2 linked regions of the Homo sapiens genome follow. The protein of the gene in region 2 purifies or fractionates together with the protein of the main gene of each other region. This does not show direct contact. Each region holds a gene or a part of one and is shown on either strand. Other genes may lie near its edges.

Region 1 (16,740 bases), on a different chromosome or scaffold from region 2:
TATATTTAAAGTAAGACTTGTCTAACTCATTTTTTGAGTAAGTCAGGTTTCAATATATACTGTAAAAGAACATAATGGCAAAACAGAAAATGCATAGCTTATTTAGATCAAGAGAGTCTTAATGAGAAAATGTGTTTTGCTCTTAAATGGGGACATTTTTACTAACCTGGAAATTTACTTACATGGAACATCTTATTCGTATGACATCACATTATAAGGTATTGCTATAATAGTCAGATTAATAAAATGACTACCTTCAGGTAAGAGTGTAAGAAGAAATCTATATTTTTGTTTGTTTGTTTTTTAAACATAAACTTGCTCAGTTAATGCAGTGTGAAGAGGCTAGGGCCTGTCATATGATACCAGTTCAAATTCGTCATCTTCCCCTTTATGGTAACTAACATTAAGTTATGTGGCACAAACCTGATACCAAGTAATTTTCCACTTAACATGGCATGTTAGCTTTTATAGATATTTTAGGCCTGGCTTAAAAAACATCTTTATGACCAGGTACAGTGGCTCACAGCTGTAATCCCAACACTATGGGAGTTCGAAGTAGGCAGATAACTTGAGCCCAGGAGTTTGAGACCAGCCTGGAAAACATAGCGAAACCCCATCTCTACAAAAAAAATACAAAAACTAGCTGGGCATGGTGGTGCAGGCCTGTAGTCCCAGCTACTGGGGGAGGCTGAGGCAGGATGATCGATTGAGCCTAGGCGGTCAAGGCTGCAGTAAGCACTCCAGCCTGGGCAACAGAATGAGACTCTGCATCAAAAAAGCCCAAAACCAACCAAACACAAAATCTTTGTTTGTTTTTACATTGTGCATTCAATAATGCCAAGCAGATTCTAAGAAAAAAAAAGTATTTTTCTCCAAAAGTCAATTCTTCAATTTAAAAGATTTGGTTTATCTTAAGTAACCTTTATTAAGTAACTTTAATAAGTAATCTTTCAGTGTTGAGACAATGTATTATTGTGACTGTGAATATACAATATTTTAACGCAAGGTTGTATTACTGAACGGGTAACGGAAATCTTTTCTGGAAAGAGGGTAGTAGAAAAGAGTCTTTTACACTAAGTAAAGGTAGAAGAATAATATATTTAGAAGAAAAAAGAAATTACAAGTCATCTAACCATTCAATAATATAGTTTAGGCAAGCCTGTTTCATATGCGTCAAGCCACATTCCTAATACTAGCTGCTCAGTTCTTTTATTTGAATAAACAGCATGTCTATTTATGGTTTCTTCTTATTTATTATTGCATTGCATAGGAGAACATAATTTTTCTCACAGAGTCAGGCTCATCAAATCAGTACTATCAATGATACTTTCAAGAAAAGTTACTCAGCCAGGCGTGGTGGCTCATGGCTGTAATCCCAACACTTTGGGAGGCCGAGGTGGGTGGATCACCGGAGGTCCGGAGTTTGAGACCAGCCTCGCCAACATGGTGAAACCCCGCTCTACTAAAAATACAAAAAATTAGCCAGGCATGGTGGCAGGAGCCTGTAATCCCAGTTACTCAGGAGGCTGAGACAGGATTGCTTGAACCTAGGAGGCAGACGTTGCAGTGAGCTGAGATTGCACCACTGCACTCCAGCCTGGGTGACAGAGCGAGACTCTGTCTCAAAAAAAAAAGTTACTAATTGAACAACACCATTCCTAGCAGCAAGAACACAGTGCTCTGTGACAGTGGGATGGATGCTGAATATTGCTTTAGAGATAGCAAACTCAAATACGAAATAACTATAGAACACATTTGGGAAGCACATTTAGCTCTAAAGGGCTGAAATACTTCATAAAAAGTCCACTTCAGTAGCAGAGAAGGCTGCCTGGAGACAGCAAGGTAGAAACTCTACCACAGCTAAAGTCCCATCTCAATCCTGCATCTAAGATTAAGAGGCAGGTGTGCAAGCCCTGCAAAGTACAGTCCTAAAGTTCTACCTAAACTATGAGAAGCAAAAAAATAGTAAGCCAATGACAGGTTTTTCATTCAAGGAGGAATCTTAAAGGAAATTCCGAAATGTACATAAGATTTTAAATGCCACGAACTAAAATTTAATTCCTCCTATACGGTTGGATTTATTTTTTTAAGATGGGGTTTCACTCTGTCACCCAGGCTGGAGTTCAGAGGCATGATCTCAGCTCACTGCAACCTCCCCCCTCCCAGGTTCAAGCAGTCCTCCCCGCTCAGCCTCCCAAACAGCTGGAACCACAGGTGCACATTACTTCACTCAGCTAATTTTTTTGTATTTTTGGTAGAGACAGGGTTTCACTACATTGCTCAGGCTGGTCTTGAAATCCTGAGCTCAGATGATCCACCTGCCTCAGCCTCCCAAAGTACTGGGATTACAGGCGTGAGCCACCGTGCCTGGCCTTATAGTTGGATTTTTTAAAAATCTGAGGTGGCAGAGACAACATCTGTTGATGAGAGAGAAATTAAAATTCATCATATATAACAAATTTGAAACTACCCATTCTCTTTATTATAGTAACCATATTAATAAAAGTAATAGGGCCTCATTTAGTCTTTTCACTCTATGTTGATGCAGGAAACAAAACTACTGACTGTTTTGACAGCAACATGATACCTCTTGCATTTCCACAAAGCAGTCAAGTGAAACAAAGTACTTTTCCTACGGATTTAAAACAAACAAGCTGTTTCCTTTCCGGCAAGGTTCAAATGTCATTCCTTTGCTTACCTAGTAACTGCAGTGACAAACGTCGTTGCTGTATCCAGGATACCCATCTACCTATTTTTAAAGTCCCTGTTAAGTCTTTTGTTAATGCTGTCTAGTAAGTTGGTATACAGTGGATCATAATTTTATGTTTATAAAATCCTTTCTGGTTTTGAACACTTTAGGGATCATTTATACTTGTTTACTTTAGGCATGGGGAAAAGAGTCAGTCTGTTGAAACTCAGTGGCCTGCTTTAAGGCAAATGTGAGGAACAACTCTGATAAGAACCCGCATTTGGTGCTGCTTCTATTATAATGCATTCTGGTTTTCTCTTCAACAAAAATTAAGGACTAAAAGGTCAGCTGAGTAGATCTAAAGCCTATTCTGAAACTCACTGAAACCTCTATTAAAAGACAGCGAATAAATCTTATTTCTGGTTCTTCACATCCTACTGGCAAATGTGACAAATTTTTACTGCCTTGCCCTAAAGGGATATGTGAAAATTCTAATCCTATGCTTAGTGCATGAGAACTTAGAGTAAATAAATCACCAACATTCTAATATTACCAGGTAAAGATGAATAGTTTATAACAGGGGTCCCAAAACCAGAAGTGGCCTGTTAGGAACCGGGCTGCACAACAGGAGGTGAGCAGCTGCAAGTGAGCATCACCGCCTGAGCTCTGCCTCCTGTCACATCAGTGATGGCATGGGATTCTCATAGGAGCACAAACCCTATTGCGAACTGCACATGCAAGGATTTGGTTGTGGACTCCTTATGAGAATCTAATGCCTGATGAACTGTGGTAGAACAGTTTCATCCCAAAACCATTTCCCCCATGGAAAAACTGTCTTCCACGAAACTGGTCCCTGGTGCCAAAAAGGTTGGAGACCACTGGTTTATAAAGTAAAGCAATAAAAATGTGTGCAAAAGGCAACTAACTGAACTTAAAAGAACAAAAAGAGATTATTATTAAAAAGGCTGATATCCAAGTCTCTTTGGTGGGAGCAAGAGAATCAATAGGATATTAACCTCCATTCTGAACTCAAATCCTTTCAAGTTTCAAAGTATTTATTCGGGACAAAGGCAGCTATGAAGAGTTGCGTACAAGAAACAGAAACAAATACCTAATCCAGGAAATTCAAAGAGATTAATTTTTCATCAGTAGTTTGCTTCTCTCTTCTATGCTCATATTATGTATTTACATTCACTGTACACAAATTCATTTAGCATAATGCTATTAAAAATGCTTGTGCCTGTCACACAGGTTTCATATGACTATGCCCCAATGCCCTACCTGCATGTCCCACCAACATACTTACTGAATTCATTCCACTGAACAGGTCTCCTGATCCAACATGAGCTGTATGCACAAAGTTTGTGGGCTCTCCAATCATACTTCTGTCAATCCGCCGTCGCCTTTTCTAAAATATGGGGAACAAATGTGTTGAGAAAGTGATCTTATGAGCAACTTATTCTGATGGATTTTTATACTATGACTGTTTAATAAATTTGCCAAGAACACAAAAATGCCTAGCTCTTAGACTGCCACAATTACTTCTTATGATGAAATCCCCAAGACAAATATATGCACAAAAATGATTAGTAAAGCAAAATAACAGGTTATTATTTAGAGCTTAATAGATTATTTGGTCTAGCTTTGGTCATCCACATATTTAATAACTGCTTAAGTTTTATTCTTTTTAAAAAACGAGACAAATGTAAAATTACCCTCAGTCACTATTATTGTTGGCAAAGAACACAGTGGTTTGAATACACTGTCTGATTTTAAACATTACTTTCTGGCTTTCATCATTAACAGATGTATTATATTTTGATGGTTATTATTCAGATTATACCCAATTACCTTTCTATGCTAAAATGAATCTGTCATTTCAGCTGGAGGGGGTGGAGGTGGGAGGGTGAGAGGGTGACAGATTTGGTCCTAGTCCATTCACTCTTCTCTGGTCTGTTCTAGCTGGGAACTAAACCTGTTGACTAACTAGGCTGGGTCTTACTCACTCTTCTTAATTTTTTTTTTTTTTTTTTTTTTGAGATGGAGTCTTGCTATGTTACCCAGGCTGGTCTTTTAACTGGGCTCAAGCAATCCTCGCACCTCAGCTCCCAAGTAGCTGGGATTACAGGCACGCACCACTACGCCTGGCTGACTCTTCCTAATTTTTGAAAAGCACTTCTCATGGGGTGCTGAGCCCCATTTTCCAGTAACTTTAGCCACCAGCTGGTGTCCCTGTTCTGACCAATATGCTCATCTACCCCTTAGAGATATTTCCTGACTGTACTGCTGTGTTTCACTGATTATCTAAGAGTTTTCCAGATATGAAGATTATCTTAGATCTGTCCTGTTTTCCATGATCCCTTAGATATGATAATGTTATTGGGAGAGACCACTGGCCACGTTGGGTTAGTGTCCTACTATGGGGCTCTGCTTATCCCAGTTTACTGTCAATAGTATACTTCTCCTGAAATTGCAGCTTCCCTCAAAACCAAGCAGAGTTACAAACTTGCTGGATTAGCTGCCTTTGAACATAACACTTTTATGTCCTTATCTACTGAAACGCTGGCATGATCCTGATAAACCCTAAAATTTTATCACGAGAGTCCCATATGACAGCTCCTCAGGGTGAAAACATGACTTTCTACAAAACCACAAAAGTGGCGAGCCCATGCATATATTTTAGAAGTCCATATACATTGTTTTACTGTCCTCTCGTTTATATTGTCATAGATAGAAACAACAACCACAAAAAACCCTGACGCTTTTCCTTTGAAATATTTATGTTATTCATCCTTAGAATTCAGCAATGACATTAGACCATCTCCAAGTTTGTTGGGTTTTCCTTCCAGTAATTCTGCGTGGCACACGGTTATCTGAACACAGGTTTTCTGTATCTTAGAAAAGTTTTATTCTGTTAGTTCCTTGATAATTGCTCCATGTGTTCATTTTGCTATTTCTGGAGTTCCTGCCTATGTGGACATTTGAACATGTGTGTGTCTATAATCTTCCAAGTTTCTTATATTTTCATCCTTTATTTCTCTTTATAATTTCACTGCATTGAAAAGTAACTCTGCTTTATCCTCTTCAGAGGTCCAAGCTAGATAGTAAATATTATAACCTTGCAGGCCAAATACAATCTCCACTGTAGCTTTGACTCAACTCTGCTATTGTAGCATGAAAGCAGCTGCAGAGCACATGAAATTAAATGAGTATAGCTGTGTTATGGTAAAAATTTATTTACAAAAACAGGTGACAGGCTAGATTTAGCCTGTAAAAGTAGTAGTCTGCTGACCCCAGCTCTAGATTTTTTCAGTAGTAGCCACATAATTTCATTTTTTCCATTATGGTTATTTTTCAGAGGCTGTTATGACATGTCATTGCAACATTTTTTAATCTCTGAAAAAGTTGTATTATTATAGTTTTTCACTCTTTTCCCTAAAAACACTTAACTATATAAATTATAAGTCTATAACACTAGGGAACAAAGAACTCTCATTTCTTTATTTGAACAACTTTAGTTTTACTTCAAGCCTTTTTTTGAAAGTTGGTAAGAAACTGTCTGTCTTTTGGGGCCCTGTTCCACAGAATCATAAAACTTGCAGGTTAAAATGGTATCATAAAGTCAAAAGAGGCTTTTGTCTATGTGTTTTAATTTTTCTATTTCCTAGCACAATGCACTGGTTTCCTGCTATCTTTTTCTCGCATACTGCTCCCTCTGATGATCTTAGAGGTGCCTCATACAAAGACTCCCTGCCCCTAATGGCAGACTTGACACCCACAACCATCCTTTGATCTGGAGTGCTGCATGCCAGCAATGCACTGGTCTTTTCCTCTGTTCCCCATCTTTTTCACAGACTCAGTTTGTCTATTTCCAACCACCCCATTCAACATACTTCTCTTCATACTATTTTTGTTTGGAATGATAAAGCATAATTCTATGAATTAGCCTTAAACAATGCTAACTTATCTTTTTTAGGAATAAAGTAGGGAAAAAAGATGTTAACAGTTTTGTGCCTTTTTCTCTTCTTAATAATATATTATTACATTTCCACTAAATTTCCTTATTAGGAAGCTATTTGGGCAGGTCCAGAAATGTAATCTTTACCATCACAGGATACGAATTTTCTCAGCATGTGGGCAGGACAAATTATTGGGATTTCTTCCCCAGTGAGCCACTTAACTGACAGGTAGAGAGGGAAGCTTCTAGGTTCTTGTCACAGTTCCACAGGACAGTGGCATCTGCAGGACACCAGACTCTTCCCCAGGCGTTTGCAGTAAACATGTCAAGATAACTGCTTCTGATATGCAGAGAGAGCCACTTGGCTCTCTCAAGCAGGGGAGGAGGTGGTACCAGAGAATACTTCCTGGTACCTACTTCCAGACCACTAGGAGGAGTCTTGATCAACCCTTGTCCTGTGAACCTGCAGAAGCAACTCCTAACAGTTCTCATTCTGCATCATTTCCTCCAGAAGGGTGTGTTTAGAGCTTGCCAAAAGGCTCCACTTGGTCTATACCTCCATATTAAGTGATTTATTCTGTTGAGTTACTGCAGGACTGTGTTGGGGGAGAACAGAAACCATAGTGTGCTCAGGCCACCACCCATCTCACCCAAAAAGAATGAATAGATATGCTTGTGAAAGAAGGGTATTAACACATACTCACAAACAATAATTCAGCAAACATGATTACTGAGAATATTCAAAAGCTGATAACAAAACTAGTTCCCAAGAAGCTACTCTGACACTGAAAAGCAAAGGATGGGAAGACTTCAGCTTACTTCTATCATACTGTGTTATTAGATAACTAATATATATGAATGTGAAAATAATAGTGAGTATTTTTCAGCTTGAACTATACTGAGCTGGGAGTCACACCTTAGTATTGGAAGGTTTCTTCATGGCATCTAATCTAACAGTTTGTGAGATATGAAAGAAGCTTTCAGTCCTTCGCTCCCCAAGGCTGAGGGAACTCAGCTGTCCAGAAACTGAAAGGAGCAACTGTGTTGTGCGAGCATAGTAAAGGTAAACACCTAAGATGAAAATAGTAAGATAAGCAAGAACCAGATCACATAGAGTTTGTAAAGGACTGAAGTGTGTGATCCTCCCAAGAACAATGGGAAATAATTGAAAGTGTTTTAAAGCAGAGGAATAACATGATTAAATAGCTTGAGAAGACTATTCCACAATAGCTATAGGTGGAAAACATGTTAGAAGAGGTCAAAATAAGTTATTAATGTTGGTGAAAAGGGATTATGTGGATTCAACTAATAACACAGATAGAAGTGGATAGATTCAAGAAGTAGTCAGTGGATAAAATCAACAGCATTTGGGCCGGATGTGGTGGCTCACGCCTGTAATCCCAGCACTTTGGGAGGCCGAGGCGGGTGGATCACCTGAGGTCAAGAGTTCGAGACCAGCCTGGCCAACACAGTGAAACCCCGTCTCTACCAAAAATACAAAAATTAGCCAGGCGTGGTAGCAGGTGCCTTAATCCCAGCTACTTGGGAGGCAGAGACAGGAGAATCGTTTGAACCCAGGAGGCGGAGGTTGCAGTGAGCCGAGATCGAGCCATTGCACTCAGGCCTGGGGGACAAGAGCGAGACTTCTCTCAAAAAAACAAAAAAAAAAACAAAAAAAAACAGCACTTGGTTGCAGGCTGGATTTGGTAACAGTGAGAGGGAGGAGTTAAGAAATATGCACAGACTTCAGATTTCAGCAGAGAGTGTGCAATTCACTGGGTTCTGAGAGAATCCAAACTGGAGATAAGAGACTGAGAATCACCAGCATTAACAAAGCCAAGTTAATGAGATTTCCTAGACAAACTAAATTTCTGTGGTTGGGCAGAGAAGAAGCCATCAAAGAAGGCCAAAAAGAAACAGCCTGAAAGTCAGTAGGAAAATCAGCAGTGTGTACAAGTGTCAAGAGGGAGCAGAGCTGAAAGGTGGTGAGAGGTCAATTAAAGACAAATACGTGCAATGGATTCAGCAATATCAAGTCAATGGGCACCTTAGTGAGTGCTATGTCAGTGGAGTAATAGGAGGAGAAGACACGCTGCAGGGGACTGAGGTGGGTCTAAGAAGTGGAAAATGGAGAAAGAGAACAGAGACAACTCTGGAGAAAAGTCTGGCCTTCTGGACAGGAAGAAGACAGGTCAGTGGCTGAAAGGAGAAAAGGAGATGAGAACAGATTGAATTTTTCCCCTGTAAGATGGCAGAGAATTCATTATGCTCAATTTCTAATGGGAAAGATCCAGTAAAAGAGGTACAGAAAAAGAAGGAAAAAGAAAATGGATTGTCAACCTTACAAGGTTCCTGAGAAGGCAGGAAAGGTGGATCTAGACACAGGTGGAAGTGTTCTTTACACTCTTTCCTACAACACTCTATCAAAAACCTGGATTTAAATATAAATAAATATTCTAAACTATAAAAATGCAGTATTTTAAGGCACAATGTGGACATTTAAAGAATGGCACACTTGTTTGGGGTACTGTATAATAGTCACGGGTGGCTGGGCATGGTGACTCATGCCTATAATCCCAGCACTTCAGGAGGCTGAGGCAGGTGGATCACTTGAGGTCAGGAGTTCAAGACCAGCCTGGCCAACATGGCGAAACCCTGTCTCCACTAAAAATACAAAAATTAGGCCATAAGAATGATCAAATGGACTTGGGGCTCTGGAAGAGTGGGAGGGGGGCAAGGGTTTTATAAAAGACTACAAATATGGTGCAGTGTACACTGCTCGGGTGATGAGTACACCAAAATCCACAAATCACCACTAAAGAACTTACTCATGTAACCAAACACCACCTGTAGCCCCAATAACTATGGAAAATTAAATATTTTCTTTAAGAAAAAAAAATTAGCTGGGCATGGTGGCAGGCACCTGTAATCCCAGCTACTTGAGAGGCTGAGGCAGAAGAATCACTTGAACCTGGGGTGGGGGGTTGGCGGGGAGAGGTTGCAGTGAGCCGAGATCACACCACTGCACTCCAGCCTGGGTGCCAGAGTGAGACTCTGTTTCAAAAGAAAAAAAAAGAATAGTCATGGGCAAACAAGGGGAATTCCAGAGTCAGACCTCCGCAAAGAAAAACAGGAAATGGTGCACTCTGCTCTGATACGTATTAACAGTTGTCGTTAGCAGAGTCACCGTGTTTCCTGGAAACAAATTCTTTATAGGAAACTTTGTTAAGACCGTCAACCATCTGAATAATCCTTGCATCCTTAAAATATTAACTTTTATTCTGCATAAGGTGAAGGACTAGAGACCCAAATGAACTGCTATGTTAGTGTGGAGGGGACATTAGGCAAAATGTCTCTTCCCATAACTTTTTACATAATTACATCATAATTATTAAAGATAATGAACTAAACAATTTGGAGTATATCCAAGGAGGCGAGAAGCAGGTTAATTTCAAAGGATTTGCTACTGTGAGAACCTTATTTGCATCCTTATCTAAACAATATGTATATAACCATACTATATCTACCTCCCTCACATTTCTGGCATATGGATCAACTGTAGCTTCTAGAAAACAGTAATTACATCATCACTTAAAAGTTAAAACTTTCCCAAAGACTATTCTCTGGGCAGCTTAGTGTGCAAACACATGTCACTGAGAAGCAAATGAAGGCCAGGTCCCATCAGGTTAGCAGAAGGCCTACAGTAAGAGTAAAAGATGGTACAGCCTGAGGTAGTTCTAGAAGCAGATACAGAGTGAATAAAGAAAATGAAAATACTTGCCATCTGGGACAGTGAAAAAAGCTGGAACTTTCAGGGTATAAAATAGCAATCATTTATGCAAATGTGGCCAAAGTAAATGAAAGGTTGAAAGCTATGCTGACTCAACTTTATGACCTAGAGAAAGTCAGTTGAGTTGTGTAACTAAATCCCTAAATCTATGAATTAAATCTAACAAGCCCACTATTTCCAAATTGTGTCTTGGGGCATCCCAGCAAAACCCAGGGGTGCCAGGGTTTTCTATTTGAGGGAAACACAGTGAGGCTCAATGTGTGTTTGACACTGAGTGAACTACCAGCTTCAGATAATTTGTAACTTCAACATTAGAACATACATTCTTTTTAACAGCATATCTTTGTGAAGCTGAGTTTTCAGTGGTTACTGTGAAAAAAACCCAAGCACTATGCAAAAGTCAGTATGGAACTAGAAAAGAAGGTGGTGGTGTTCAGTCTGATTCCACAGTTTGAGAAGTTGTATAATCCCAACAGGCACAAACACACCATAAGTATGTAACTGGTTATTTAAGAATTAAATAAAAATATTTTTCAATTTATATCTTATTTTTTAAAGGCAAATAAGTTGTTGGGACATAAATCTTTACTAAGTTGTTTGTACCAAATTAGTTAATAAACAAGTCTGTACGGTATTTCTCTTGGCCTAGAGGCACCATGAAAAAAATTACAGAACCGTTAAGAGAAGTTTGGGAACCTCTGAAATAAGCTACATTAGTTTTTTGAAATATTGACAGTGTAATTAGGAACCAGGCATTTCTAAAACAAGTGGGTATTTTTTTTCTATGATGCCAGTGACAGTGATTCCCTGGGTGCGTGAGCTGCTTCCAAGTTAATCAATCTAGTTCACAGTATGGAAAAAAAGGCTAACAAAAGTTGTAATAATATAAAAAATGGATTTGACATTTTTTGATGAAAATGATCTTCCTAGTGGATATTCATTGACACAAAAAATGAAAATACCTTTTATGGTAGTAATGTCAACAAACTATATGAAACACCCTTGCCCCAAGTCTCTCCCTACTCATTCTTTGAGACCCAGCTCAAACATAAACATTCCGAGTTGAGGCTGTTGGATATTTCCTGTTCTGAACATTCACAGCACATGGCTCATATTCAATTATAGTACTTAAAACATTGTATTGTAACTTACTTGCTTACAGTTTGATTTTCCTACACTACTAAGAGTTCTGTAACAGTAGCTGTGCCTGACACACAGTAGACAATAAATGACTGTTGAATGAATAAAAGGCTTTTTTAAAGAAACAATGTCAGCTCAGTTCTCTAAAAATTGTTTGTCTTATCTAATATTATCGCCAAATATTTCTCAAGAACCTATTATATTTGGAAGATGTAAACAATGTAATGCCAATTCTAATGAAGTCTACATTTCTGCATAAAAAATACTTATCTGCTGATTTAATTTTCTCTCTTTCATAGAAATGCTGTGTGCTCTAGAGAGGTTTTAACTGGTAACACTGTTTTAGTTTTTATATTGGGTAGAACCTGTAAAGCAGTGGTTCTCAAGCTACAGTGTACATCAGAATCCCTGGAAGGTTTGTTAAAATACAGGTTTCTGAGCTCTAGTCACAGAAGATTTTCAGATTGAGCAAGTTTGGAGTGGAGCTTCAATTTGCATATCTAACAAGATTCCAAGTGATATTGATGGCTTAATGGTTAATAGAAAACACTGGCTCTAAAGATTAACAGCTGAATGACTATTATTAAAAAGTCAGGCCAGGCGTGGTGGCTCACGCCTGTAAGCCTAGCACTTTGGGAGGCTGAGGCGGGCGGACTGCCTGAGCTCAGGAGTTCGAGACCAGCCTGGGCAACATGGCGAAACACCATCTCTACAAAAATACAAAAAATTAGCCAGGTGTGGTGGCACACCCCTGTAGTCCCAACTACTCGAGAGGCTGAGACACAATAATCGTTTGAACCCGGGAGGCAGACGTTGCAGTGAGTCAAGATCACATCACTCCAGCCTGGGCAACAGAGAGAGACTCTGTCTCAAAAAAAAAAAAAAAAATTACATATAGTCAAATAATAATAGATGCTGGTGAGGCTGCAGAGAAAAGGGAACACTTATATACTGCTGGTGGGAATGTAAATTAGTTTAGCCATTGTGGAAAGCAGTATGGCAATTTCTCAAAGAAGTGAAAAACAGAAGTATCATTTGACCCAGGACCCCCTTACTGAGTATATACCCAAAGTAATATAAATCATTCTACCATAAAGACACATGTACACATATGTTCATCACAGCACTATTCACAATCGCAAAGTCATGGCATCAACCTAAATGCCCATCAGTGGTAGACTGGATAAAGAAAACGTGGTACATATACACCATGGAATACCACACAACCATAAAAAAGAACTAGACCATGTCCTTTGGAGCAACATGGATGGAGCTGGAGGCCATCATCCTAAGCAGACTAACACAGGAACATAATACCACATGTTCTCACTTGTAAGTGGGAGCTACATTGAGTACACATGGTCACAAAGAAGGCAACAACAGATACCAGGACCCATCTGAGAGTAGAGGGTGGGAGGAGGGAGAGGATCAAAAAACGACCTAATGGTTACTATGCCTATTACCTGGGTGATGAAATTATCTGTACAGCAGGTAATCTGTGACTCAGTTTACCTATATAATAAACCTACACATGTACCCCCTGAACCTCAAAGGTAAATTAAAAAATAAAGATTAACAGCTGAATATTTAAAAAGTAAAAGTGGGTAATAAAGAGTACTTATAAGATACCAGGCACAGTTCCAAGAACTTTAAAGCCATGAACTCATTTGCTAGTACCTTCTATAGCAGTATATGACATTTTACCTTCCCTTCAAATCTGGGATCCTCTGGCAAACTCTCACTTCTTGTCTCAGCCACTGCTCAGAAGTCCTCATTTGTTCACCTTTGTACTCTCTATTGAATAAAGGTTTTTTGTTTTTTTTTTTGAGACAAGAGTCATTCGTCACCCAGGTTGGAGTGCGGTGGTGCAATCTCAGCTCACTGCAACCTCCGCCTCCTGGGTTCAAGCGATTCTCGTGTCTCAGCCTCCCGAGTAGCTGGAATTACAGGCATGCACCACCATGCCCATCTAATTTTTTGTATTTTTAGTAAAGATGGGTTTCACCATGTTGGTCAGGCTGGTCTCGAACTCCTGACCTCAACTAATCCACCCACCTTGGCCTCCTAAAGTGCTGAGATTACAGGCATGAGCCACCATGCCTGGCCAAGATGGGAGTCTTAACAGTGTCCAGGTCCTGGATATTCATGTTAAAGAAGCTGAATTCAGCCTTCCCATGGGTGGTAATCTGAGTTGATAAAACTGCCTGTGGAAGTCTAGTTTCTAAGAATATGACAAAAAAATCTCTAATATGTTAAGGGACAAATGAAAGAGAAACAAGGTTTTAGATACTGCAGAGACTGGAAAAATATCTGCTCTTCAATAACTGAATAGCCTACTTTGGATTCCAAATTCTCATACTTAGGTCAAAACTTGAGAAAATAATAAACTTCTTCTATACATGAACTTGTACTGTATCTTCTACGGTGGGAAAAATAATTCTACTTGTCTGGCTTCTAGAGCTTAGCTCACTCACTGGAATGCCAGCAGTGGCCCTCAGGTGACAGAGCTTATATAAGGAGCTCTCTCCAGAGGAGATGAGAGTCACACCATAGATCACCACAGAGAAACCAAAACCAGCTAGTATTATAAGCAGAGAATTATCTAAGTCAAAGTACAGAAAGGAAAGATATTTTGTGTTGGAAATATTCATAAATAAATAGGTGAGTTGCTGGTAATGCATTTACAATTCAATCTTAAGTGTGGTGCTGTCGGTATCTGTCCTTTAGGGTTTAGTAGGTAACTAACCTTTTCCTACTCAGTATGTATTTTGCAGCTTTTGACAGATGAGAAGTTTGCAGGAGACCCCCAAATGTTTTTAAAAAGAATCTCTAAGCAAATCTATAGTGACCTTTTCAAGGGCCAAATTGCTAAAAGCAAAATTGAAGGAACTAGTTGTTCTCATCTCTCAGTGAGAAACCTGAAGTGAAAACAGTTTTTTTCTCCTTCTATTTAAAATTAGTATCTGGTTTAAGTCACATATTCCAAGTATGAAAACTGAAGCACAAAATAGGTTAAAAAAAAAAAAAAAAAGGAGGGGAGAAACTAATCTGAACTAGCTTTCAAGTATTAATGATATTGTTAATATCATTGGTGTTAAAAACTTTTCACTAGAAATTTCTGTCACTATGGGTCCATCTGGGATTGTTTCTATACACTGTATGTATACAATGTACAATGTACCTAGGAAGATATTACTTGCCAAAGTCCCACAGCTAACTAAAATCAGATCTGGGAGTCTTCCTTGTCCACTGTTGTTTCCTTCACATCACTGTGTGAACAACTGTGTTTCAAAGCAAGTCATATAATTCCCCCCAAACATTTACTATATAAAATTGAAATACAAAAATCAAGTGTTTATATTAACTCTATGTGAAGAGTGTTTACAATTGAGCCAAGTACTGTACTATAATTAATTTTTCTTACACCACACTTTGCACTGGAATTGCTTCTGGCTTGCTTAGCTTAAAAAAAAAAATTCTGTCACAAATTTTACACACAATGTCTGCTTAACTTTTTTTTTTTTTTTTTTTTTTGAGACAGTCTCACTCTGTTGCCCAGGCTGGAGTGCAGTGGCACGATCTCGCCTCCCTGCAACCTCTGCCACCCGGGTTCAGGTGATTCTCCTGCCTCAGCCTCCCAAGTAGCTGGGATTACAGGCACCTGCAACCGCACCCAGCTAATTTTAGTAGAAATGGGGTTTCACCGTCTTGGCCAGGCTGGTCTTGAACTCACCTCGTGATCCACCTGCCTTGGCCTCCCAAAGTTGTTTGCTTACCTTTTAATGAAACTATCATTAATTGTTCTAATACCCTCCATAAGTATCTCGTGGTATAACCGATTAAATAGCTAAGTGACTTGTCCAGATAGTCTGAAATTTCACTCAGTAGTATGGGTTCTTTTTCATTCAACCAAGAGACTACTGTTTTTTGTTTTGTTTTGTTTTGTAGTTCAGGGAAATTTTCCCCTAGTATTACTTTGATAATTTACTAGGGAAATTTTCCTGTAGTATTACTTTGATAATTTATTATCCTCCAATGCCTTTTGTCCTCTTTTTTGTAACTTTAGGCAGATTTTGTACTTCCTGGGTTGATCATCTAACTTTCTTAATTTTCCCTTCTACTTTACATTTCTTTATATTTTTCTTTTACTTGCTGGAAGAATGAACTACATCTTCCAGCCTTCTCATGCACTACTTTATTTCAGCTATCATATTATTTCCAAGCATCGTTTCTTGTTATCGATTTGTTCCTTCTCTCTCTCGCTTCCTTTGTAGGCATGTTGTTCTTGTTTAGTGAATCCAGTGTCTTATCATCTGAGACCTATTCATGTTTTCTGTTTTGTTTTTTAGTTCTTTCCTATTGCCTGTATCATCTATTTCTTCCGAGTTCTTTTATTCAGTTCATTCCTTTTAGCTTTTCTGTTGTCTAATGAACACAGGCCATCCAAACGAGGCTTAGTGTGCACGGGTCATGTTCAACTGTAAATTCAATGAACAGTGATCAGATGGTGAGCTCACTTTTTGCTTGGGGAAACCACAATTGCAGGTTATCAGCAGGTCCCTTCTGTGATGGCAGTAGGCTCTCTAGAAAAGGACCTGCTGAAGTCCAGACAGAAGAGTTCGAATCTAGCTGCAGGCATTCTAAGATGAAGGCAGGTGAAGAATGCTGGCTGGCTGGCTTGCTTATCAGTATCCCCCTCTGTACGCAGTTAGGCAGTGGCTCACTCAGCTAAATAGGTTCCCACTCTACCATCCCATCTATTTTTTTATTATATCTGATCCACGGTTCTCTCTCCTCTTCACTCTCTTTTTCTTTGTAGGTTTTATCTTTTTGTTATTTAAACTCCTTTAATGTCTTGTGAAGTAGGGTTTCAGGAAAGAAGAAAATATACATATAAACCCAGTCCAACATCCTCTCTTATGTTGAGATAACTATATCTCTCTTTGTGGTAACTAACGTCAAATCAAATGAGAACAAAATATTGCTGGTAAGAGACCAGCTCTTTAAGGTTTGATGGTCATGTTCATTTCAAAAAGAAATGTACTTGAATATAACCAATGGGGATAAAAGCAAAATTTTAAAAGCCCATTACTTAAAATGAGAGCAAATTGCAATTTATCAACTCAACATCCATAATAAGAGCATTCACTTATGCCATGCACT
Region 2 (16,740 bases):
GCTGGGCTGATGCGGACGTGGAGCTCCCTGAAATGTAATCAGGGGATGCTTTACAGTGCTTTAGGGAAGTAGGGACTCACAGGAGAGAGGTCTGTTTCTGTCATCTTGCCTTTTTGTCTCACTCCAACGGTTAGGAGTAACCATCAATACCCATGGAGACCAGATGGGAGAAGCCCTTCCTGCTCCGGGCTGCTCACTTTAGAGGGCCCGCCCCCCGCAGGGCCAAGACCAGAGTGAGGCAGGAGCCAGCCTGCCTTTGTATGACCCTGAGAGTGATGCCTCCTTCAATTTTGCACTGAGGCACGTCACCTGCCTCACCCTAGTCCCAGCCCTGCTGTCCTGGCCCTTCTTTGACCAGACCCACCGTAAGGGGAGAATTTGCAATGTTGACGTCCTGTGCCTACCCAGACCTGCGTCTCTCTCTCTCTAGATCCTGAAATTCCCAAGGTCCCTGAGCCCGCTTCCAGAGGCTGCACAGGTACCCCTGCTGGGCATACCCCTAAGCAGGATGGAGTGTCTGCACGGCTGTGCAGACAGCCCTTAGCTGAGGGCGTGGGGAGAAAAGGTGGCCAGAAGCCTACTCTCTTCATCAACCAAGCTCCAGGACAGAATCCAAAAATTCAAGGATTCAAAATTTGGATCTGACCTTCCATATTTTTATATGGTCTATTTTTTATGGTAGGAAGATAGAACGTTTTTAGTTTAACAGTGTGTTAGGGTGATGTATTACTCTGAACTATTTAGACATGTGGTATACGGGCCTCTATCCACACTCTTGTCTGGACCCCATAAATGTGAGCCTGGAGGAGTCTTGAGAGAGGATGACCCAAACGTCAGAAGACTCTGTGGAGAAATGACCCCTACACACACACCTACTACTATAGGTCTCTATTGCTTGTATAGGACCATTGCAATGAATTCTTTGTCGGATTTATGATCCTGCCTGCCAGGTAAAGTGTCCAGGTGGTATGTAAGCATGTGTATGAGGGGATAGGCTTAACATGGTCACTCACGAAGGATGAGCCATTTTTGCTGAGGATGAAGCATGGTCATTTGCAAGAGAATTTCCCTGACATTGTCCATTGAAGGAGGCAGCTAAACATGGTGGGGCCCTGCACATGGAAAGTGGCTAGAATCAGATCTGTCCCTCTCACAATTAGGGGAGCAGCTCTGCAGAGTCTTACCTCGGCGTCCTTACACTTCCTCCCTTCAGTCGAGCACAGTGACACATCTATAATCCCAGCACATTGGGAGGCCGAGGCAAGCGGATCATTTTAGGTCAGAAGTTCGAGTCCCTCCCTTTCTCCACTTCCTTCAGGCCCTTCAAGCTTCCCACAAAATCAACATACACGCATGCACATGGATCCTGTGATCTCTCAGAGCCTCCCAAGCCCCCAGGCTTTCCACTCTCCTGCTACCTTCCGCCACCAGTTTTGACCCATTAGGATTGACATCATGCAAATTGAGGCCCATCTTTTGGTGGCCCCAGGGACAGTACAATGTCACCAAAACATGGGCTGTACAGCCTTAGACACACATGCAGGGGTAACATACCTGCAATGTCATCTTCAGCTGCAAGGTTCCAAGTCTCAGCCACCACCCAGGCCCACCCAGGCAGGCTAGGCCGTGATAAAAGTTATTTCTGGATTGCGTCCATTATCAGGAGCAGGAGTGACAGACGAGCTCAGCTGGAGCCCTTTCTTCTGGGATCCTCACTGGTAACACACCCTGTCGGGCCCACCATGTGCCGCTGGGTTTGGAGATACTTGGACCCCAGCTGCCTGCCGATGGTTCTGCTAGCCCAAAACTTTGTTCACTGTCCCACCTCATGTGGGAAAAGGCTGGTGGCTGGTGGGGACACTCTGGCCCCTGATGGTTGGGGAGGAGTTGGTCTAAATCCACTCCTCCCAGCCTCACCTTCGCCCTCCACCACCCACCTGGGTCCCTCCAGAAAACTTTGCAAGGTCTGACTTTCTGCCTGGGCCTCAGCAGTCCTCTCAACTGTTCCAGCCCCCTCCTGGATCCACTATACAAATACAGGCTCACTGCCAAGAAGTGAGAACAATAAATCTTCCCTCATTCTTTTATTCATGTCCTCACCTCTGCAGGGACTGCTGAGGAAAAACAAACCCCACAAAATCCCTGTGGGCTCTGGCAGTCTGGCAGTCTCTTCTTTGCTCCTCTCTGATGATCTTTGGAAGGCAGAGGCCAGGAGAAGAAGCCCATCCAGCTCCCGTACGGGCGGCAGGCCCTTCTCTTCCTCCTCCTGAGTGGGCTCAACCACTCGAAGCCAGCACCTATAACATGCTGAGCCCGCACCGGGCTCTAGGAACCAGAAATCAGAGTGACCAGGGGAAACTGGGACATCGATATGCATGGCTTGCCGGAGTAACACTACACCTGACTCACCTTCCTAGCCTCCCGCAAATTGCCAGAGAAGTTCTGGGCCTAGGAGGGCCAGGCTGTTTGCGCAAAACATTAGGTAAGGTGAGGGAGGGCTGCCCTGGCTGCAGGCTCAGAAGCTACCACAGGGAAGTGGCAACCAGGGAAGCTGCAGGCCCTGAGGAAGGAGGGGCTCTCTCCTTAAGGGCCTCCAGGGCAAGGCAGCATCTGCTGGTGTCACAGCCTTTGCAAAACAGTTCAGACCTTGAGAATTCCCAGGACCTTCCTCCTCCAACTCTGTGCACCAGGGAGTGCTTCCTCAAACTGAGGAAGGATAGTAGGATTCGGGGATGCACTGAATTTTGCAGAACTCCATTTATACAGAAGAGATGCATTAGACTTAGGGTGAGCCACTGTCCTAGTTTGTCCAGGACTGAAAAGTTTCCCAGGACATAAGCTTTTCAGTGCTAAAACCAGGACAGTCCTGGGCCAACTTGGAAGATGGGTCACCCTAACAGAGGGGCTGTGGGAAAACCGATCCTCCCTCCCTGAGCCTGGCATGTGGCTGGGTCCAGAGCAGGGTTTGGATCCCAGATGTTTTCTAGCGGTTCTGCTAACCCACAACTTTCCTCACTATTCTAGGCATGAAGAAAGGCTGGAGGAAGGAGTGGGTCCTCATGGCCAGCTTAGGAGCTGTCAAGGAAAACAGAAAGAAGGAAAGCGTTCACGGTCTTCGTGGTAGAGAGGAAATTCCTTTGGCTGCCTTTGCGGAGCTGGGGCCCATGAGGCTTCAGACAGAGCCTGGGGTATCAGAAAGTGAGCTGGAGAGCACCTAAAAAACTGCCAGATTGAGGGGCTCAACCTTTCCTTGAATCCTTGCCCAGGGTACAAATGCTAGGTACAGCAACATGGCGAAAGCTGCCTTCCAAGTCTTTTGCCCAGTTTCTATTGCTCCCATGGACCCAGAGGGCTCCCAGGGACGGCAGCCTTGCAGTGCTGTGAAGCTATAGCAAGCTGACTTCTGTAGATCTGTCCCAGGGAACAGGCTGCTCCTAAAGGTTATCCAAACTGGAAGTGGTGGGCAGACATCTCAAGAGGCAAAAGAAGTTTGAGTTAAAGCTGGTCTAACAAGGCAGATCCCGTGGAGACCATCTTGCCCAGACTTCTAAGTTGACAGATGAGAGACCAAAATCCAGGGAGACTGAGTCACCTGCTCGAGCAGCACATTCCCACGTGGGATGTGATGGGACTCTGCATCTAGAACCATTGTTTCCTACTATCAGATGTCACAGCCAGAGGTTCCTTGGAAGGGAGAAAGCTCCGAGATGATGCCAGCCTTTTGCAAGTCTCTGCCTTCCTGGAGCCCACGTGCTGTTCTGGGAGAGGCTAAGTAGCAAGGACTCTGTGCCTCTGCAGCCACGATTTCTCTCTCCATTCTGTTTGATTCCCCAGCTTGGTTCCCTCCAGCACCACCTCCAGGTGAAAGCCTCCACAGATCCCCCTGGAGTGCTCCACCCTGGGGAGACTCCGAGCAGGCAGGCCTGCTTGGCCTCTCTCTTTCCCAGCCTTGAATGTATGAGAGAGACCAGCCTCAGCCCTCAGGAGTAGGAAGCTGCTGCCTACCTACTTCCTTACGAACCTGCCTAGAGGTGGAGGGATTTAACACACAGTTGAAAAAGTCATTAACAACACCTGGCTCTGATTAGTTTAGTAGGAAACAGAGTCCTGAGGGTGCGGCACACCCTGAGTGTTCACTGCAGCATGTCTGCTAGGGAGGTATAGATGGGGCTCAGGCCCAGGATGCTGGACTGGAAAGTGGGGGCAGGTGAAGGTAGGTTTTCCTTTGAGTAGCTGTGGAGCAGCAAGAGGGTCCTGAGAGCATGGCCAGGAGACGGCAGAGTAGAGAGGAGAGAAGAAGCATCAGAGGGACTTGGGAAAACATCTGACAGCTACCAAACCAGTTCTAAGCATTTATAGCATTTCCAGTTTTGTCCTATTGTGGGTGAGCCAAGCACCTCCAAAAAGAAAATATAAGAAAGAGCCTGAGAAATGTTCCTGAGGAATGGCAGGGCCGCCCCTTGTTCCCAGAAACCCTTTTAGGAAAAGCACGACTCCACAGAAGGTGTCAGGAGGGGAGAACCTGAATCTGATGCTAGAGGGATGCTGAACCCTCTAGCATCCTTGAGACCCCACAAGCACACAGAAGAAGAGGGAAGGGATCTGCACCCATCATGGCAGCCAGGAATGACCCTCTTGGAACATCTCAGGAGGCTCGAAAGCTCTGCCCAAGCAGGTGGGATGCTGAATCCTACCGGAGGAAGGCAGAGGTTTCCCACATACAGAATTACTCTGACTTCTGTAACAACAGGCTCTTGGAACTCCCTGAGCAATTACTACCTCCCCACTCAGCTCTCTGCCTGGCTGGCTACTAGTAATTTATTGCAAATAAGTCTCATTTCTCCAATAAGACAGTCGGCTTTTCTACCTCCGAATTCCCTACAGAGCTTAAGATAGCTGGGAACCCAGCTGGTCCTCATTAAGGCCCTTCTGAACCCGAATCTTCCCAACCTTCCTGGCCCCACCTCCACCCCTTCATTCCAGGAGCAGGCTCAGGGGAACGGAGCTGGCCAGGCCACTCGCTTCCCTTCCCTTTCCAAAGAGCTGGACTGGCAGATGCTAATAAGGAAAGTGAGAGATTCTGCATCTGCAGATCTGACTGGTAGCCTGGCCAAAGAGAACAAGAACTTCTGTATAGGTAAGCAAGGAATCTTTATTAGCAAATTCTCTAATTAGGGTACCCTTTATAGCTCTCCTATAGGAGATATTCATTTGTAAGTTTTAGTCAAGACCGTGAATCTCAGGGAGAACTGAAAATTTCTAAGAATATTGTTGAGAAGGGTCTTTGGCAGGAGCCTCTTAAATTCCTGGGTTTTGGTTCCTTCATCTATAAAAAAGTAGGTGTGGGAGGCCGGGTGTGGTGGCTCACGGCTGTAATCCCAGCACTTTGGGAGACCAAGGCAGGTGGATCGCTTGAGGCCAGGAATTCAAGACCAGCCTGGCCAACATGGCGAAACCCCATCTCTACTAAAAAAAAAAGTACAAAAAAAATTAGCCAGGCTTGGTGGTGCACACCTGTAGTCCCAGCCACTCAGGAGGCTGAGGCATGAGAATCGCTTGAACCTGGGAGGCAGAAATTGCAGTGAACCAAGATCATGCCACTGCACTCTAGCCTGGGTGACAGAGTAAGATTGTCTCAAAAAAAAAAAAAAAAAGGTAGGTGTGCCAAGGCATTACTATAAGCAGGTGACTTACACCAGGTGACCTGAGCAAGTACCTTCCAATTCTATTCTTCTGTGCAATACTGGACCATCTCATTCATTCATGTGCATGACAGTAATGTGGATTTAGAGTAAAAAGACCCACGGTTGACATCCTGGCTCTAGTGCTTACCAGCTGGGTGGTCTTGGGGGAGTCACTTAATCTCTCTGAATTAATTTTCTTATCTGGAAAATGAGGACAATAATAATAACATCTGCACCACATAGATTTGTGAGCTCCCACATATGGGCATGTTTTCTAAACTGTAAAACACTATTCAAATGTTACTGAGTATTGAAAGACCTTGATGGCTGTAATTTTTTTAAACTTCCCTTTAAATATGCAAATGATTATGATTGACATCAGAAACACAAAAAAGATCACAGCTGCTGGATTTGCTGTTAACTTATCCCTGCCCAGGGGGATCTACTACCCCATCAGTGCCTCCTGAGGCAGGGACTTAAGGGAGCTGGGCAGTAAATGTTGATCCCAGGGTAGAGGCTGAAGGTCTGACCTCCAGGGACACAGGGCGAGGCTATTTTGCCATTCAGCAGAACTTCTCCCACGTTGCTTCTACAGTTTGACAGCAGACTCCCAGCAACTACTTCCCTGGTTAATAAACTGGCAGTAAATTGAAACCTTCATTTTCTAGTGCACTTCATGTAAAGGGAGCAGACCCTCTAGAAATGAGTAATCATTTGTACAACTCCTCAAAAAATATGCTGATAAACTCACAAAGTTCTGTTATTGCTAAACACTAGTTGCATTTCCTTGGGTAAGCACCATAAAAAATTCACTGCAGTTTTTAGAAAGAAGATGCCAGTCACATTTTAACTGCTAGAGAGGAGAGAGTTGGGGAGAGGCTTACCCAAGGAAATGCTAACTGGGCATAAAACTCAAAAAGAGAGGCCAAGTCAAAGGCCCAGTTCCAAAACAAGAGCTAAGAAGGAGAGATGGGTCCAGGTGCGGTGGCTCACACCTGTAATACCAGCACTTTGGGAGGGCGAGGCAGATGGATCACCTGAGGTCAGGAGTTCGAGACCAGCCTGGCCAACGTGGTGAAATCCCGTCTGTACTAAAAATACAAAAAATTAACCAGGCATGGTGGCTGCAGTATGCCTGTAATCCCCGCTGCTCGGGAGGCTGAGGCAGGAGAATTGCCTGAACCCGGGAGGCAGAGGTTGCAGTGAGCCAAGATGGCACCACTGCACTCCGGCCTGAGTGACAGAGCAAGACTTCGTCTCAAAAAAAAAAAAAAAAAAAAAAAAAGGGGAGAGAGAAGGAGAGATGGGCCTTGCAGGGAAACCAGACCTTCCCAAGAGAGCATTGACTTAAGTGCTTCTCAGACTCAAGATCTCAGAGCACCTGGATGGCTAAGGCTTTTCATTGCAGATCATGACATGTAGATTTTTTTTTTTTTTTTTTTGAGACAGAGTCTCACTCTGTCACCCAGGCTGGAGTGCGGCTCGGCTCACTGCCATCTCTGCCTCCCAGGTTCACGCCATTCTCCTGCCTCAGCCTCCCGAGTAGCTGGGACTACAAGGCGCCCGCCACCATGCCTGGCTAATTTTTTGTATTTTTAGTACAGATGGGGTTTCACTGTGTTAGCCAGGATGGTCTCGATCTCCTGACCTCGTGATCTGCCGGCCTCGGCCTCCCAAAGTGCTGGGATTACAGGGGTGAGCCACCGCGCCCAGCCAACATATAGATTTAACAAATTTAAAGAATTAAACAAACCCCATTTCTACAAAAGATACAAAAGAAGAATTAGCCGTGTGTGGTGGCATGCACCTGTAGTCCCAGCTACCAGAGAGGTTGAGGTGGCAGGCACTGAGCCCACAACATCGAGGCTGCAGTGAGCAGAGATGGTGCCACTGCACTCCAGCCTGGGCAAAACAAATAAGCACAAACCAAAATTCTCAAGTAGATGAACAGGAGTCAGCACCAAAGCTTCAATATGTATAGAAGATAGAAGGAAAATTGTAATTCTACCCTGTAATATGTGTTTGTGTCTGTCTGTCTGTCTGTCTGTCTTTGTGCGAGTGAGAGAGAGGAGACAGAGAAAACTGGACCAAGACCATATATCACTTTAATAACAGAACTCCTTGGACCAGTTCACAGAACTGTCATTTAAAACCAATGTCCTAGACCAACTCCAACCTTCTTGTTTTCCAGTGTACCCACCCCACACAGGGCCAGCCACAGCCAGGTGAGAACAGGAAGGGGAGTGGAGAGGGAGAGTGGAGAGGGTCCTGACTCCCATAGGCTTCATCTGGGCTGGCCCAGCCTTGACCCCATCTGCCCAGGAGCCTCTCAGCCATGGAGTCCTCTAGGGAGGCACTTAGCCCACCTAGAGCACAGGAAAAAGGTGGGACGGGGGGCACCTCCCAGCACCCTCCCAAAAGACTCACACAGGGGCAGGGAGGGGAGAGGGCAGAAGGGCAGGCTTCCTGCTGCTTCTAGCAGCCTCTTCATCTCCAGCTCCTACCTCTCTCCTCCCCCTCATCCCTCAGCAACCACAGCATGCCCAACCAAGTCCCAGCCTCTCTTCTGTCATTGAGTCTCTAGTGAGAAAGAGGACTCTGAAATCAGGGCCCAAGAGGAGAGACCTGTTGGCTGGGTGGCTGGCCAGTGGGTAGTGACTGTTCCTCACACACAGTAGTAGGAGGTCCATGCGTTCTGTGTCGGAGGCTACTGCCTCTCCTCCATTAGTGGAGCTGCTGGAGGCCCCAGGAAGCATGAGGCAGTGGTGTGCAGTGAGACTGGAGGAAACAGCAGGACTCAGAGGAGGGAGTCCTAGACCAAAAGGGAAAGGAACTGATTCACAGCATGGCTCTACACTAGCCAAGCGACTTTTATTTTAGTAAATCACTTAACCATGCAGGGCCTTGATTTTCACTTCTATCAAATGAGGCTAAAAATATCTGCTGCTCAAGATTTTTTGTAAGATTTCTTTGAGAAGATCAATACATACATTCCCTGTAAACTCCGAATGTATTATCTACCAACCCCCACCCCTGCCCAACCTTAGAGGAAGATGCTTTTCATGATCATGCCCTAAATTTGTAAAATACTTTAGGTAAATAATGTTTTTGTTTTGTTTTGTTTTTGAGACAGAGTCCTGCTCTGTCGCCCAGCCTGGAGTGCAGTGGCACGATCTCAGCTCACTGGAACCTCCGCCTCCCAGGTTTAAGCGATTCTCCTGCCTCAACCTCCCAAGTAGCTGGGTGCGTGCCACCATGCCCAGCTAACTTTTGTATTTTTAGTATAGACAGGGTTTCACCATGTTGGTCAGGCTGGTCTCGAACTCCTGACCTCGTGATCCGCCCACCTCGGCCGCCCAAAGTGCTAGGATTACAGGCGTGAGCCACCCCACCCGACCAGTAATGTGTTTTTATACACATTATCTCACTTGGCCTTCCCATTGAACAGATGAAGGAGAGTGGCTTGCCCGGAGTCACACAATTTACGTAGGTGCAGAACCCGAACTGCTAAATGCTGAGCTCTCTCCACAGTGCAGGGAATGTGGCCACTAGTAACTGCCTTAGAGACCAGGGATGAATGATGGTAACAGATATACACATAAATAACACGATAGGCCGGGCACAGTGGTGCATGCCTGTAATCCCAGCACTTTGGGAGGCCAAGGCTGGTGGATCACCTGAGCTCAGGAGTTCAAGACCAGCCTGACCAACATGGTGAAACCCATCTCTACTAAATACAAAAAATTAGCCAGGCGTGGTGGTGCATGCCTGTAATCCCAGCTACTTGGGAGGCTGAGGCAGGAAAATCGCTTGAACCCGGGAGATAGAGGTTGCAGTGAGCTGAGATTGCACCATTGTACTCCTGCCTGGGCAACAAGAGCAAAACTCCATCTCAAAAAAAAACAAAAAACACTGCAGATCACTCACTCTAAGCCTAGCACTGTGCTAGGCATTGTACGGGTCTTATTTAATAGCATATAACAATAGCATATAAGTAGCCATCATGGTTATTATCAGGAAATTAAGGTTTAACAAAGTTAGAAATTTGCCAAAGGTCGACACAGGAAATGGTAGATCTGGGATACAAACTCAGGCATACTCTTACCCAGTTCATCCTTAAACTGATAGAAATCCAATGGATTCCATGTTTAAGCTTCACTTCTTCCTCCACTCACTCTGGGGAATATGTCCTAGCACCCTCCCCAGTCCCCAGCAGGGCCCGGGCCTAAGGGGTAAGGTTCCTTGCATTCGAGGGCAGGTCCTTTAGAAATCTCCCTGCCCTACTCCTGCCCCCACACTCACCTGAGCAGTGTCATGGATCCAGTCCAGAAACTCAGCTACCTTGGCGTAGACACCTGGGTGATTGGGCTCTGCGCAGCCACGCCCCCAGCTGACCACCCCCACTAGGCGCCATGTGTCCCCATCTGGGCACACTAGGGGGCCCCCGCTATCTCCCTAAGGGATCCAGGCATGGAGACACAGAGAAACAGCCAGTTAGTTCTTCCTGATGGAGAGCACCAGACCACTATGGCAAGTGGAATCTCCTTACTGGGCCCCGCCTGCTTCTAGCTGAGATATCTGCTGGCCTCACCCCTCCTTAAACCCTTAGCATGAGCTCCAGACTTGCCTAGGTGCCCCTCCTTCTAGAGAGGCTGTCTCACACCACTGACAAGCTCAGACCAGGGCAGGGGGCCAAGTCACAGCAGGCCCCCTGCCCTCCCACCCCCACCTCCACTCCCACCCTCACCCCAGCCACCACAGGCCACACCTGGCATGCATCAGCCCTTCCGTCCAGGTAGCCAGCGCAAAGCATGCGGGGGGTGAGGGCTCCGCTGTACACGCAAGAGCTGTTGCAGAGCTGAGTGCTGAACAAGGGCACCACCGTGTCCTGGAGCATATCCGAGCTGTAAGCTATGAGAGACACCGAGAAAAACTGCAGGGCACAAAGCAAGGCCCAGGCAGGCAGAGCAGCAAGAGGGGAGGTAATTCGAAGTCCCAGAGACAGGGAGACCCAAAGAGGCGAGCCCAGGGTGGGAGCTGTGGACGCTGAGCAAGGAAGCAGTAGGCTATCGGACTTGGGGGCTGGGAGTGGGAAGAGCAGGAGGACTCACACATACACCAAATGTGAGACCATGGCGCTCCTGGGACAAGGGGAGGGGGAGTAAAAGGGTCTGGGTTTAGGGAAAACTTGCAGTAGATGTTCTCCCCAGAAAGGCCCAAGCAGGGGAGACTGGAGACCCTAGGCCTGACCAAGGGTGATGCCAGGGAAAAACAGGGCTGGCACTGTCATGTGGCCAGGGGATGTGGCCTTGCCTCACCCTGGGGAAGAATGCCTCCCACACCCGCCCCTGCACCGAGGGCCCAGGGAGCTGACTCACTATGGCTAGGGTGGGTGTGGCCCCAGCCAGACACCCAGCACCGCGAGCCCTTCGGAAAATGCTGTTCCTTGGCCGGCAGGCACACAGCGCCCACAGTGTCTGTAGAGAGGCACATGGTCCTGGTCCCCAGTCAGGCTTGGCTTCCCCCACTGCAGAGCCTGGGCGAAGGACCCAGGACTGGCAAGTCCTCCTCAGCCCCCTTCTCAAACAGTCCTGGCTCCTGGGTTCCACCAGCCAGGCCTCCTAGATGGCTATGCAAGTGGGGCACTGTCCCATCTTTGGGGTCCCCTGTCACAGAGGACAGCATGCAAACTGCAGTGTGCATGGCGCCCTCTATGGGTGGACAGGACCCATGCTGCCCCCTCCCCACACCTGGGGATGGAGTGGGGGTGAAAATTCTTTCAGGCCATGGGCACCCAACTTCTAATGAGGACAGTGTTTCCAAAAACGTGACATATCCCATGGGTGCAGCCATGCATGATTTTAGGTAGTACATAGGCACACTATTGAGTAAAGCATTCACTTGGGGAGAACGCCATGTCCTTTTCAATTCTCTTTCAGTCCCTCTAACCGCATCACAGAGAAAGACTTCATTTGGTGCTGGTCTGTGCCTTTCTTACTGCCTGCCGTCCTCCCACCAAACAGGAGACAGCACGCCCAGGTGCAGCAACTTCTGCAGCGGACTCAGCTACCTAGAACTTCCACACTGATTTCTTTTCATGCTACATATTTTTGTGGTTAGGATCTATTTATTATAAGTAACATAGGTTCTCTAGTTAGGTAAGTAATATAGGTTCTCTAACTAGAGATACTAATTATTATCTATTTACTATACCTATTTTGTATATTTAAATAGTAAATATGCTATTTACTTACTATACTATATAGTAAATATACTATTTATTATAACTAAATAAGTATATTTAAAAGAGAAATACTACTACAGTAGATACTCATGTAGTATCTACTACTTAGATACTAATATAGTCGTATTTTTCTTTTAAATACACTTATTTCGGTCAACTAAGAAAGTTTTCTTTTCCTTTTTTTTCTTTTTTTTTTTTTGAGACGGAGTCTTGCTTTGTCACCCAGGCTGGAGTGCAGTGGCATGATCTCAGCTCACTGCAATCTCTGCCTCCCAGGTTCAAGTGATCCTCCTGCCTCAGCCTCCCGAGTAGCTGGGACTACAGGCATGAGCTACCACACCCAGCTCATTTTTGTATTTTTAGTAGAGACGGGGTTTCACCATGTTGGCCAGGCTGGCCTTGAACTCCTGACCTCAAATGATCTGCCCACCTCACCCTCCCAAAGTGCTGGGATTACAGGCGTGAGCCGCCATGCCCAGCCTTAGAAATATCTGTTGAACGATAGTTCACGTATGTGATACAATTTGTGAAATGTGTATGGCAATGACTGTTATTTGGGAAACTTAAGGCTACAGGTAATGACGGGAGGAAGGAGTGTTAAGTATATGTGAACGTATATGTGTGTGTACAGTGTGCATGTTTGTGTGTGTGGTGTGTGTGCGCAAGTGTGTTCATGTGAGCACGTACATGTGAGCATGTGTGAATGCTCACGTGTGAGTCTATGTGCACATGACTGTGTGAGTGCATGTGTGTGTGTGTTTGTAGGTGAATGCCCACATGCACGTGTGTGTCGGGGAGAGTGGCTGCTGGTATAGCTCCAGCCTGGGCTCACGGGCAGGTGCAGCAGCAGGAGGAGCCCTGGCATCAGGCTTAGGAACTGTTTGCCACATGACCTTGAAGAGAGTTGCTTCCCTCCCTGCACTGCAGTGCTCTTGTCTGTATCTACCTGTTTCAACTATCTATCAGGGTTGTTACGAGGACTGAAAGAGAAGATATTTGAAAAAATGTATCTCATAAACTGTAACATGGCACCAAATGGCTAGGACCCGAGGCTAGCCTGGGGACAGGGGTGGAGCAGCCTATTGGTGGATGGGGCAGCTGCTTCAGACCTCAAGGCAAAGCCCACCTGCCCCCTAGCCATGAAATGGGTCTGAACCTCTTTTCCCAAAAGAGCCTGTACAAGAGTTGATAACAATTTCAGAACCAGATGATGCCAAAATTCACTAGTCCCAAAATAAATAGAATGTTTTAAGGTTTACAGTGTTCAGAGGAAACTTCAGAAATCAGCTCACCACTCTCCCACCCAGCCCCCGCCCTCTCTCGCCATAGTCTCCAGCCTGCCCACCCTCAAGCCAGTGCCGCACCTGAGAAGTTGAGAGCGGTCTGGAGCCTCAGGAGGGCGACGTCGTAGTCATGATTCTGGGCACTGTAGAGGGGGTGTGGGATAATCCTCTCCACCAGAGCCCCTTGGTGGGGCCTGACGGCACTGTGGCTGACCAGCCCCGCATGAACCCGCCAGCTGGACAGGCGGGCCAGCCTGAAACTGCACACAGGGGCCATGCTGAGCGGGGAAGGAAGGGGCAGAAGAGGTGTTCCTAAGCAAGGTAGCAGGTGGAGGAAGCTGGCCAGAGCAGCCATTGGTGGGGGGGCCGTCAGCAGGCGGTGAGCTCCCAGGCCCCACAGACTATGCCTCTTAGTATCACCCCAGCAGCCGGCAAGACACTGGGCATGCAGTAGGTGCTTAATAAATGCTGCAGGACTGATGGATAGAGAAGACTATGGGTCATCTGCAACCACCACTCCCTCTTTCCTGCATAACTTCCCTCCAAGTTTTATAACAAACACATAGAGGGCCTTGTGTTGGAAAAACTTCCCCTGGTCCCATCTCTCAACTTACTGTGTGTGATCATGGGAGAGGCACTTCTCCCTCTCAGCCTCGGTAAAATGGGGATTACACTCTCTGCCCTGTCCGGCACCAAGAGAAGATCAAAGAGCTCATTCACTCATCATTCATTCATTCCTCCAAGTCATATTTATTAAGCACCTACTATATTCCAGGGACTGTTCTAGACCCTGGGGACACAGCAGTGGATAAATCTACAAAGAGATTTAGTGGTAAATAAGACTGAGAGTCCCTGCTCCTGCAGAGCTTCCCATCTAAAGGGGAAGAAACATATTAACCAAATAATTACATGGAAAATGATTGAACCAAAGATAAGCCTGAAGAAACACAGGATACTGTGAATGTGAAAGTATTTTTAACACTTAAAAGCTAATGAGGCCAGGCACGGTGGCTCACGCCTGTTATCCCAGCACTTTGGGAGGCTGAGGCAGGCAGATCACCTGAGGTCAGGAGTTCGAGACCAGCCAGGCCAACATGGCGAAACCCCATCTCTACTAAAAATACAAAAAATTAGCTGAACATAGTGGTGCCCAGCTGAGGCACAAGAATCGCTTGAACCCAGGAGGTGAAGGTTGCAGTGAGCCAAGATTGCGCCACTGCACTCCAGCCTGGGCAACAAAGTGAGACTCTGTCTCAAAAAAAAAAAAAAAAAACTGATGAATATAAAGAACAAATCTTCATATTATTACTGTTATTTGTGCAGATCTGTTCTTGATACTGAATGAGAGAACTTCACAAACACCAGTCTTACCCTTTTGGAGCAAAAAGCTGGAGACAGTTGGACACGAACATTTGATACAGGACATACCAACAGCCGAACAGAAAGGGCAACTGAGGCTCTCTGTCCTCAGCAGCCACAGAGACTTGCCTGTGCATACAATGTGCAGCAGTCACCACCCAGCGTGGCGCTAGCACAGAGCCCCCACACGTGTGCCGGAAGCCCAGGGCCACGCTGGCCTGCCACGGCCAGCGCCCAGGAGCCACAGACTGCCCACCAACTATCCGGGAAGCCAGGGGCCTCGCTCCACACTCTGCCAACAGAGATGGGTGAGATAGAAAGAGAGAGAGAGGTGAGTGTCAGCATGGTCCTAACTCTCAGGAAGCGTGGCCCAGTGCTAAGCCCCAGAGAGCCAGTGTGGACAGCTCTCCTTTCTTATTCCTGGTCCTAAGTATGGGGGATGGGAAGGTAGAAGTGTTGATTTCACCCCTGCCTGCCCCATCCAGCTGTGGGCCCACTGAAAGCAGAAACTGTATCTGCACTAATGGAGCCCTAGTACCTAACAGAATGCCTGTCCTGTAGTAAAGGTCGAAGTGTTGGTGTGTGGAAGGATGTGTGAATGGACAGATGAAGAGACGGGTAGATGAACGGGAAGACCAATGAAAGGAACTCCACAGATTGCTTCCCGTTTGGTACCTGATTCACCACCTGCCCTTAGTTTCCTGAAGCTGCTAACAGGTCACTCAATAGCCAATAATAATTTCACCTCTGGGGCTTTCCAGAAGAAAGATGGAGTTGGTGTCAGAGGCCAAGGAAGAGAGTGGCAGGTAGTGAAGGAAGGAGATCATCAGCCCAGATCTGTGGCTGGTGAGGGACATGATGGAGGCTTAGAAAGGGTTCGGCTGGGGCAGAACAGCAACTGCAAGAAGGGGCCTGGCAGGCAGATGGGCAGGTGGGCAAGACCCCTACCCCAGGCCCAGCAGAGTCTCACCATAGGGCTCTTCCACACTTGAGGCAGGGGGAACACCCCTTCCTCTCACCGCCACCTCCCCTAGACCAAGATATGACTCACCAGAGCATCTGAGGGAAACAACTTGACCAGAAGTGCAGTTGTTCCTGCAAAACAGAGGTACCAACAAGAAGCTGGGCAGGGGCCGCCCTGCAGCCACACACATCCAAGGACGTGAAGAATGGGGGAGGCTGGTGGGGGTGGTGGACAGTTCTTAAGGCTGTCATGTAGCCACAGCCTGAAGAATACCACCATTTCCTTCCTGCCCCCACCCAAACACTCAGACCCCTCCTCATCAGTGGTCCCCAGGACAGGAGCACACCTCCTGCCTAGTCTCCCAGAGGGCAACAGAAGGACTTCATGGTCCTTGCAGATCAACTGGGACATAGTGTGTTTACAGATGAGAAAGCCACACTGTTCCCACTAAGTGTCCTGAATGAATACACACTCAATGAATGAATGAACGGATAGGTGAGTGTGTGGGTGACTAGGGTTCTTCACCCCATGCTCCTTCCTAGGTTTGCTGTATTCTCCACCCTGGTCCCTCTGCCTGGGCTTTGCATATTCATATTCTTGCTCTCCTCTTTCCCCTCTTCTCTCTTAGCTCTTAGTTCCTTTTTTGACCAAAACTCTCTTCTCTTTCTTTACTCACCTCTTGCCCCTAGCAGTCCAATGTCTAGACCCTCTTAGTTTCTCCTAGTTTCCCAAATCCATAGCCCTCCCGGCTCTCCTGGAGGAGTCAGCCCCACCCCTACTTCCATTTTCCCATTCAGGTATCCAAGACAAGAACCCTGTCAGAACCTTCCCAACTCCAGCCACATTCCTGAGCACAGGAGCTGGACAGGAGGGGCCTGAAGGAACAGTTCAAATTGGAAATGTGGTAATGGGGGTGCCCACCTTTCTATCCCAGGAGGCTGATAGGCAGATTGAGGAAGCCTAGGAAGGCACAAAGACCCTCTCCGCTTGTGCCCCAGTCATACCAAACCATCCCCAGGATCTGGGGAAGGGGCTGCTCCATTCCACAGCCCTCTTCTCTAGGAGACTCTCCAGACTACAAGCAACTCTTAGCCAGAGCAACTCAACCATCTCTTTCCTGAAATATCCGAATTATCCAAATAATGTGTGGCAGGATTCAGAGAGCACTTAGCTTGGAGACAGGAGCCTGGTTTCAAGGCTTGACTT

Evidence for each region.
Region 1: the proteins of TMPRSS5 (region 2) and CDC42SE2 purify together in Homo sapiens (affinity purification with mass spectrometry; 2 studies listed by BioGRID and IntAct, with this or other methods). This does not show direct contact.

Annotation. Positions count from the first base shown.
Region 1 is NC_000005.10:131,372,900-131,389,639, reverse strand, and holds part of CDC42SE2 (CDC42 small effector protein 2), read right to left. Parts: intron 4,098-16,740; coding exon 3,996-4,097; intron 1-3,995. UniProt on the Homo sapiens protein: Probably involved in the organization of the actin cytoskeleton by acting downstream of CDC42, inducing actin filament assembly. Alters CDC42-induced cell shape changes.
Region 2 is NC_000011.10:113,679,779-113,696,518, forward strand, and holds the end of TMPRSS5 (transmembrane protease serine 5), read right to left. Parts: intron 15,666-16,740; coding exon 15,622-15,665; intron 14,863-15,621; coding exon 14,700-14,862; intron 13,472-14,699; coding exon 13,293-13,471; intron 11,162-13,292; coding exon 11,063-11,161; intron 10,596-11,062; coding exon 10,453-10,595; intron 10,140-10,452; coding exon 9,987-10,139; intron 8,497-9,986; coding exon 8,482-8,496; 3' UTR 7,772-8,481; downstream 1-7,771. UniProt on the Homo sapiens protein: May play a role in hearing.